Linked DNA regions of Homo sapiens. The protein of the gene in region 1 purifies or fractionates together with the protein of each later gene. This does not show direct contact. Each region holds a gene or a part of one and is shown in the gene's direction. Other genes may lie near its edges.

Region 1 (5,188 bases):
GCTGGCATAGCTGCAGCAATGTCTTCATGAATCTTTTCTTCTCTTTTCTTTCTTTCTCTCTCTCTCTTTTTTCTTTTTCTCTTTCTTTCTTTTGCAATGGTCCTTATCTATCTTCATTGATTTTGAAATGGCAGGCAATCATAGCGGCAGAGCTCAATCTACGGTACCTATCAAGTAATTCAAGTTTTTTTGGTAATGTCATGATTTTTCTTTGCTTCTTGGGAGTACTTGCAGCATCATTAGTTGCACTTTATAGTCCCATGGTGGTATTCAAGGTTTAAAAAATTACACTAAACATGATGAAAAATACAGTAGAACCATAAGAGATCATTTTTTACTCTGACATGCAATTTACTAGAGAGAAGAAACGCGCAGAGGGTATAAACGTCATATCACATGCATTTAGGCCACACTTTAGCTCCCTGCAATAGCAACAGGAGGTAGCAACAAAATTATTATAGTAGTGTAGTATGTACTAGAGGAAAGTGACTAAGCAAATGTCTAGTACCAGTTAGGGTGTCCTGGAAGGAACCATCTTGTGCTTCTACAAGAATTATGCCCTGAGGTTGGCTGTTGAATCCCTCACGAAATGCTCCTCAGTGTGTTGCCTAACACACACTGCTGAGCTCACCCATTAAAATCTGCATGATGGAATTCAGCCCAATGCAATGAGAATTCCCATGGACTTCCTCTGTGCAAGGCAAAGCATGGGTGCTGTGGAAGGAGGATGAAAACAGGTAGAAGATGTAATCTCATCCTCAAGGGGTGCTCGGTAGAATGGAGGAAACAATACATAGATTCCTGAAGATGAGCACCAAAGTGATTGGGGTGGGCCCATAGCAAAGGCCTGCAGCTCTGTTCAGAATGCAGAAGCAGAGTGGGCAGAGAGAGACAGCTCATTAGAGTGCTTGGGCAAGCATAGGGACGGCGACTCACCACTGCAGACAATGTATCTGAGGAAAGCCATTTAAAATAGGTGACAGTCACATTCCATCAAATTTCTGGAAGGGTCCATGGAGGCAGGGTTGTCAATCTCATTACAGCATTTCAGAGGCCTCAGAAGATTTGGAAATGAAAAAAGACAAGCAGCACTTGTGGCTCACCTGTGTCACAATTGTGGCTCACCTGTGTCTCTGCAATGCGCAAGTGAGCTGTGTATTGCAGAGACACAGGTGAGCCGCAATTTCCTCCCAGTTAGGAGGTCAACGCTAAGACCCTTGCTCTCTTTCCGTCGAACATGAGATGCCAATTTCTTTCTGGGCAGAGGACAAAATAAAAATTGTCTATAAACTTTGGCCAGGTGTAGTGGCTCACGCCTGTAATCCCAGCATTTTGGGAGGCCGAGATGGGCAGATTGCCTGAGCTCAGGAGTTCGAGACCAGCCTGGGCAACATGGTGAAACCCCGTCTCCACTAAAATACAAAAAGTTAGCTGGGCATGGCAGCGTGCGCCTGTAATCCCAGCTACTGAGGCTGAGGCAGGAGAATCGTTTGAACCCAGGAAGTGGAGGTTGCAGTGAGCCTAGATCTTACCACTGCACTCCAGCCTGGATGACACAGTGAGACTCCATCTCAAAAAAAAAAAAAAAAAAAAAAAATTGCAAATTTTTCTTTGTGACAAATTCCAAAATTATTAGCTTCGTTCAAATTTACTTTCCTTTTTATCTTTCAATGTCGTCAAGGCCAAAAGCATTGCTTAATAATTTTGTTTCTAAACTCATATTGCAGCACAGGGCATGATCTGTCCCCAAGGCAAAGATGATGAGTTACTCTTTTCTTGAAAACATATAAGCAGGTATCTCAGCAAAGGCTACTCATGTATTATTATGAGTAAATCATTGGCAGTGAATGTGAATTTTTTTTTAAATGAATGAATAAGTACACGCCTTCTTTTGAGGGCAGGTTCTATCTGTACTTCTTCCACTTACTATATTATAGGAGCTTAGAATCCCAGCTGCTGGCTCTGGGCTGAAGTTCTCTGATGGCTCGTGCAGGGTGGACTGGCCTCCTTCCCCTATATGTGTGTCTACTGCTGACCTGTGGCTTTGCCAAGGCAGGGAAGCTGCTGGTAGTGCCCATGGATGGGAGCCACTGGTTCACCATGCAGTCGGTGGTGGAGAAACTCATCCTCAGGGGGCATGAGGTGGTCGTAGTCATGCCAGAGGTGAGTTGGCAACTGGGAAGATCACTGAATTGCACAGTGAAGACTTACTCAACCTCATACACTCTGGAGGATCAGGACCGGGAGTTCATGGTTTTTGCCGATGCTCGCTGGACGGCACCATTGCGAAGTGCATTTTCTCTATTAACAAGTTCATCCAATGGTATTTTTGACTTATTTTTTTCAAATTGCAGGAGTTTGTTTAATGACCGAAAATTAGTAGAATACTTAAAGGAGAGTTGTTTTGATGCAGTGTTTCTCGATCCTTTTGATGCCTGTGGCTTAATTGTTGCCAAATATTTCTCCCTCCCCTCTGTGGTCTTCGCCAGGGGAATATTTTGCCACTATCTTGAAGAAGGTGCACAGTGCCCTGCTCCTCTTTCCTATGTCCCCAGACTTCTCTTAGGGTTCTCAGACGCCATGACTTTCAAGGAGAGAGTATGGAACCACATCATGCACTTGGAGGAACATTTATTTTGCCCCTATTTTTTCAAAAATGTCTTAGAAATAGCCTCTGAAATTCTCCAAACCCCTGTCACGGCATATGATCTCTACAGCCACACATCAATTTGGTTGTTGCGAACTGACTTTGTTTTGGAGTATCCCAAACCCGTGATGCCCAATATGATCTTCATTGGTGGTATCAACTGTCATCAGGGAAAGCCAGTGCCTATGGTAAGTTATCTCCCCTTTAGCACATTAAGAATAATCTGGCTTTGGAAATTAAAAGATTTCTTACAGAATCATAATTTATCATTTACATTTGTCCCATTTGGAATTTCTTTCTGGTTTAAGGAATTCTTTTGTACCAATTCACTTAATTGTTGGGTAGCAAATTGTATAAAGCAGCTCTTGTTGATATGTAAGTGTATACAATTGATATAATTGTAGATCATATCTAGGCTGCAATCTAAATGCTATTTTTGGAAAAATACAAAAAAACCACAGTAAGAAATGAAACTTCCCTTTTTTTGCTAATTCTACACTACCCCCAGAGGAAAATATTCTTAGCAGTTTTGTGTGAATTGTTTTCAATTTTTTTGAAATTATACTATGTATATGCATATATTTAGGGTAAATTGTCACTTCTATTTTATCAATATAAAATCTACTATCATGCTGGCTATGTTTTTTTATGTTAGATTTTTCTCTTGTCAATAAGTTAAAGATATCTTTACAGGTCAATGCATACAGATTTGACATGTTCTTTTAATAATTGCATGGTAGTCTTTACTTTGGATGCAATGTAGTTTTCCAACCAATTAAGATTGATAGAGATTTAAGTGTTTTCCACTTTTGGGGTTTATGAGCAATAATAAGAATTCTTGTATACTTTCTTTACATTATATATATTTTCATATTTTTGCTTTTATCTCAGTAGGGTATCATCCTATGAGTATGGTTGCTTGGTTTTCACTAAATGAGTGAGATTGGCCTTCTTTTGCTATTACATCTTCCTACTCAAGAATATGAATCCCTCATTATTTATTCGGATTCTGTTTTATTTCCATAAATAAAATTTTGCACTTTATAAAAGTATTTCATCTTTCTTATTAACCTTTATTCCTCTGCATTTCATTATTTTTGAAACCATTATGTGCAAGGCAATTTTCCCATTTCTCTTTTGAATTCACTATGCATAATTAATGTACTGCTTTGAGTTTTACACATTTATCTTGTATGTAGTCATATTACTAAACTCTCGTATTAGTATGTAAGGTGTATTAAGTATGCAATATCATCTGCAAATTATTCCCTCCCCTGGTATTTATACCTCTTATTTTGGCGGAGCATATAGTTCCAAAATATTATTAATATTGTTGGTCTAGCCAGCTTAAATTAGGATTTGGTCACTTGCAATTGAAAAAGTCGTGACAAATACAAGAGTAAGATTCTTGGCAAATGCATAGTTGCTAAATCCAGGTGAAACACCTGGTGTCTGATCTAAGTATATTATTTTGTTAGGGATGGAGTATACATTTTTATCTATTGTTCTGGCTTCTTACAAAGTTCAGTAGACTTTGTAACACAGTCACATTCTCTCTCATATTGGCAGATGTTTGGTGAAAGAGTGACTGTTCAACCAACTCATGGGAAAATGCAACCAAGCGCTTTCTAAAAATCAGGGAGACTACAGTTGTAGGCCTTTCAAATGAAACATGACTTTCAGCTCTTGGCAAGACCAGGCGAGGAGATGCAAGTTGTAGGACGCTAAGAGGATAGACTTGTCAAAGTGTCTCTCCCCTGTTTACCCTCCATCAATTACAGCACCAGCCATCACTCAGGTATTGCCTGCAGCCTCACCCTCTAGCCAAGTGTGTGGCCTGCCACTTTCTGAACCCATGCTGAGTTTGTTGTGGCTCAAAGGGTCACCCAAAGGGATTTAGAGATGTAGAAATTATATATGATTCTATACCACCTATAATGGTATATGATAGAGAGATCTATAAAATATGAAACATTGAGCCATATATAGTTTTACATATTTTGGTTATTTGTATATCTTCAGTGGTGTATAAAATATATGCATTTATATGCCTTTAAGGAATATACATATGATAGGATTTATAGATGTGGAAGGTTATGTATTAATGTATATATTTATAAATAGAAAATAAATATAATTATCAAAGAAGAATTCAGATCATAAAGAGTGCCCTTTGGCAAAGAGCCCTGGATATGGCTCAACCACAAAAGTAAATTGTCATAGAAAAATTTATGGACACTGTATAGTGTTCCTTTCTTGTTTCATATGGGCAGGGTGTGTCTTGGAAAAGTATACAGTTTTTTGTACCTTGTTAGACAACAGGATTCATAGTCTGCATTTCATCTGTCTGATGAAAAGAAAGCATTGCTTGATGATGCAGTGTGTGTGTATGTGGTGTTTGTGCACGTATGTGTCTGTATGTGCAGGTGTGTTTGTGTGCAATGTCTTAAGCTCTGCACAGGAGATTTTTTTTCTGAAAGGTTTCCTATAACAAAATCTTATTGAGTCTATCCAGGTGAATTACATCCAGGGATGTAATTA
Region 2 (4,564 bases), on another chromosome or scaffold:
CGCGTCCACGGGAGTGGGCCTCCCTCTGCGCGCCTCTGGGAATGTTTGCGGTGCTTAAGTCAGACCCGGATTGCTCCAAGCCCAGCTTATCCTCCCCAGTTCTGCCAGGGTTTTTTTCCTCTTGTTTGTTCGTTTGTTTTTGCCTCTCTTTGATTTAACTTTTGCTCCTTGACTAAATATGTGCTTAACGCTAGACAAAGGACACTTCATACCCAAGTCTGTGTCTTTGTTCCAAGATCTGCAATTTCATTTGGTTCCTGTCGGCTTTACAAGTTCAAAACTATGCCCCCGTTTAGGAAATGAATTCAAAGCATGCGGCAAGGGAGACATTCGACAAACCCGGATGCTCTGGAAAACGTTGCCCTTCCTCGAGTTTCTTTCAGTAAAATCTGAATTTTGTTCCCGGGAGGAGTTGGGTTTGTGATTGCTACAGTGTAAGTTGCACCGAAATACTACATCATGTTCTTTGGGACATACATTCTGTTTCAGAATAAGAATGATATTCTTCCTTTCCTAAAATGTGAGAGTTTTATATGGACCTTTTTAAAATAAAAAATTGGAAGCCCTTGGAGTCAAGGCCAGAGTAAGACTCGCAGAAACCAAAGACAGAAAATATTTGGAACCCCCCCTCCTCAGACATGAACCACACTGAAATGTGTCCAGATACAATTCTTCAAAATCCTGGCTTTTCACAGGATGATTTGTTATTGAAAAAGTTGTTTGCTTCAGAATCTGAATTGTTTTAAAAGATTCTGTTGGTTGCCCCTGCTTTGCGGACGCCTTTTGTACGTTCTTCCTGATGTAGCGCTGCGAGGGGCGACTTTACCTCGGCGTTTGACAGGTACGCAGCATTCCCGCACCCGCCTGCGCCTCGCGAGCAGAAAGACGGCGGACTCTGCACCGCTCCACGACACTGGGGACCCGCCCCGGCCAGACCCGTCCCCTACCGAGACCTTGTCCCCGCCCCGCCCCCGGCCGGGGCCCCGCCCCGCCAGCCCCGCCCCCGCCAGCCCCCTCTCCTACCGAGACCTCGTCCCCGCCCACCAGCCCCGCCCCGCCCCCCCCCCGACAGAGGCCCCGCCCCGGCCCCGGCCAGCCCCGCCCCCGCTTGCGCGAGGCCTAGGGCTGCAGGCGCGGAGCCGCGAGCCCCAGCCAATGAGCGCCGGCGGGCCGGTTGCCCAGGCGACCAGTGCGCGGCTCCGCCCCCCGCGGCGAGGCTCCCGCGCGCGGCTGAGTGCGGACTGGAGTGGGAACCCGGGTCCCCGCGCTTAGAGAACACGCGATGACCACGTGGAGCCTCCGGCGGAGGCCGGCCCGCACGCTGGGACTCCTGCTGCTGGTCGTCTTGGGCTTCCTGGTGCTCCGCAGGTGAGAGAGAGCTTCGCGCAGCACCTGCCGGACCCCACATTCCCCAGCCCTCCGCACCTCGGGTTCTCTCCTCCCGCGACCCGCGAATCCCGAGTTCCCGGGGGGAGCAGCCCCAGCTGCTTCTTTCTGGGAGCTCCCCAATACCCCCGAGTTCCCCTGCGGCTGCAGGCACTCTACTCCTGCCGCGCGATCCAGGCCTCTGGGCGACACCCGGCGTGCCCTCGGGAGCCGGCGTCTGTGCCCCGAGCCGCCCACCCCGCCGCGCCTGTGACGCCGGGCTCTGCCCCCCGTGGACGCCCGCAGCCCTCCAGCCGTCAGAGCCCTCTCAGACGCACCCCATCGCGGCCCCGTCCCCACTGCTCCGCGGAGAGCTCCCTCTGCCCTTCCCCCAGGCCCCCCTTTTCCTCCCAAGCCTCTGGGAGGCGCCTTATTCCGCAGAGGCCGGCGCTTCAGCCTGGCAGGTATGGTCTAGCCAGCTGGCCTGGCAGGGTCGTAAGAACAGTGTCCGTGGGCCTCCAAGATCCCGGGCCATGATTTATTTGCACAGTAGGACTGATAGGTCGTCTCTCTCCACTTTCCCACCATTCACCTGTTACCAGCTCACCCTTTCCTCTCCCCCTTTTCCAAATGTTGTTTATGGCAAAGGAGTGGCTTCAGTGATACTGTGATTTACCCACAGCCTGTGAAAAAGTTTTCTGGGTGCCCTAGCCCAGCATTTTTCTAAACTGTGCTTATTTTAAGGATTCTACAGCCCTGACCCTATCTTTCAGGTCAGCACTTTCCATATTCAAAACCTCCAGTGGGAAGCCGACCGGCAGTATCGAATGAACTGAACGGTTGGAAGTGGTGGCAGGCCCTACGCCGCTCGGCTTTGTCATTTGCTTCTTTTTTACTTAGAGAAACTAAGTTCTTAGTTTCTCTGCACTTCCCCTGGGAGACAGGGAAGTTTTTGATGGAGATAAATATCTGGAAGTCCTTTGTGGCCAGAAGAACACACTGACAAACTCTATGTTTACACCTTGTCAAGACTGGATTCTTGTTTCTGAGATAGTGGGGACGTCATGATATTGTTTGGGAGAAGGACGGATTTTCTTCTCATTCTGGGGCCCAGAAAACTTCAGGCATTTAACTTCTCCGGTTGTTCCCAAGATGTTTTCTGTCCTGCCTAAGATCTCTAAGCCATTCCTCTCTGAAGATTGGCCCTGGCTCCTGTGGGATGCTCAGCTTTCCTCCCTGTGCAAGGCTTACGCAAACCCCAGAAGAATTACTCAGAGCAGCGGCAGCAGATCCTCCTGCATACAGCAGGGTAGCAAGGCGTGCAAGCTGCCAAGAGAAAGGCTAGCGGCTGCAGGCCTGTTGTTGGTCAGGGATACAGGAGTCCGTGCAGGGGACCCAGGCAGGTCACTATTTGGGGCAGCACTGTGGGCTTGAGATGGGCTGAGTGGTACACCCAAAAAGTCCCCAGGAAAAGGTATGCGAAGGAGGCTGAGGGTTTGTTATTGTTTGGTGGGACAGAGGTGAGGTGGCAGGGAGCTGACCTAGCTGGGAAGACGCCTGAGCTTCTTTGAGGTGAGGTAACTGTGTCCCCACCTAGGTGGGGTGACCGCACTAGGAGTCAGTCTTGGGCCATTGGAGCAGGTGGAATGGCAACAGAGAATAAAGAGCTGCAACCAAATTCTGTGAAAACAGTTTGGCCTGCCTGGGAAGGATGTTTTTCTTGCCTCTCCATCCTTCTAGCAGGTAGAACAGAAGCTCAAGGAGCTCTGAACCAAGTTCAGGGCCGTGTCTTCAGATCCTGTGGAATACGTGTCTTTTTGGCATCTTTTTGATTTTTTCACCCTCATGGGTACATTCTGCCAGTTCCTCCTGTCTGACTTGGGCTGGACACCAGTGAGTATGAGTTGCTGTAATATCTCTGGAGGCAGGAGGAGAACATCCTCTTTGTCTTTCCCTCTTCCTGTCTTGCCCCAGCTCTGACTGGGTCATTAACTGAGTGGGAGGTGGGGCCTCTCCCAGCTGTTACTGGGCAGTGTTGAGGTGGCCAGTGGAATATAGGTCACGTGGAAACTGGCCACCAAGTTCACTCTTTGTGGAGCCGAGCTGTCAGGAGCAGCCCCTTTCCTGTAGCAGAAGGCAGGTATTTGGACAGTGGCTGGCATGGGCTGGGGGATGTTTGGCTATAGCTTTTCTTTTTTTTCATCAACTTTTCCTTGGGCTGGTTCACGGTCAGTCATAGCTGGTGGGTTACATCATATCAAAAGACTAGGATGACCAGGTTGACTTTTGGGGAGGATTTCAGTCTTAGAATTTTTATTTTTATTTTTTTTAAGCGTAAACAGTGGTCTTTCTTAAAAATTACCTTTATTGGAGTTTAATTAATATGTACAATTTGATAAGCTTTGACACATATCTAAATCCAGCTGTGAATCTATCACCACAGTTAAGATTGTGAAAACAGCCACCAGCCCCCAAAGTTTCCATGTACCTCTCTGTCATCCCTCCCTCCTACTCCTCCCTGCTCCCCAGCCCCAAGCAACCACTGATCTGTTGCTTTCCGACACGATATATTGGTTTGCATTTTCTAGTGTTTTATAGAATTGTAATCTTAAAGCATGTTTTCCTTTTTGGTCTGGCTTCTTTCACTCAGAGTATTATTTTGAGGTCTGCGATGCACGTATCAGTGCGAACCGTGCCTTTGAGCCAGTTGCCTTTCATTCTCTTCCTATTCGCACTCCATGAACACAAGAATGCCTGCTTGATATTATCTAAAGGCATGGTTCTCATTCATGATTTTTTCCTTAATATAAATGAATCACCGAGCAAGAATACAGGCAACGCTGCATCTCTCATACCTGAAATTTTAGCTGGGAAAGTTGGGAGAGGGGAAAGCCTTCATGTGGGCAGCCAGCATCATGCTCCTAAGAGGTAAGTTCATTTCTTCTCTGAGGTCCGTCTCACACACTGCCCTGCCCTGCTGTTTTCTTTATTCCAGACCCCAAATTCTTCCTATAGAAAGGAAAAGGAGGAGATGTATCAAACTCTTTCTCCTGAACAAGGTGGCTAACTTAGCAATGCAGGTCACTTTTTTTTTTTTATGTGAATCATGGCCAGTCCTGTCTTCCAAGGGTATGTGGCCAAATCATGCCTCTCCTCTGGAGCTTCTGGGAGGTAATTGATTTTATGGGCCTTGCCTATT

The links.
Region 2: the proteins of UGT1A7 (region 1) and GLB1L2 purify together in Homo sapiens (affinity purification with mass spectrometry; one large-scale study listed by BioGRID and IntAct). This does not show direct contact.

The regions. Positions count from the first base shown.
Region 1 is NC_000002.12:233,679,958-233,685,145, forward strand, and holds the start of UGT1A7 (UDP-glucuronosyltransferase 1A7 precursor), read left to right. Parts: upstream 1-1,943; 5' UTR 1,944-1,980; coding exon 1,981-2,835; intron 2,836-5,188.
Region 2 is NC_000011.10:134,330,780-134,335,343, forward strand, and holds the start of GLB1L2 (beta-galactosidase-1-like protein 2 isoform b precursor), read left to right. Parts: upstream 1-1,208; 5' UTR 1,209-1,282; coding exon 1,283-1,368; intron 1,369-4,564.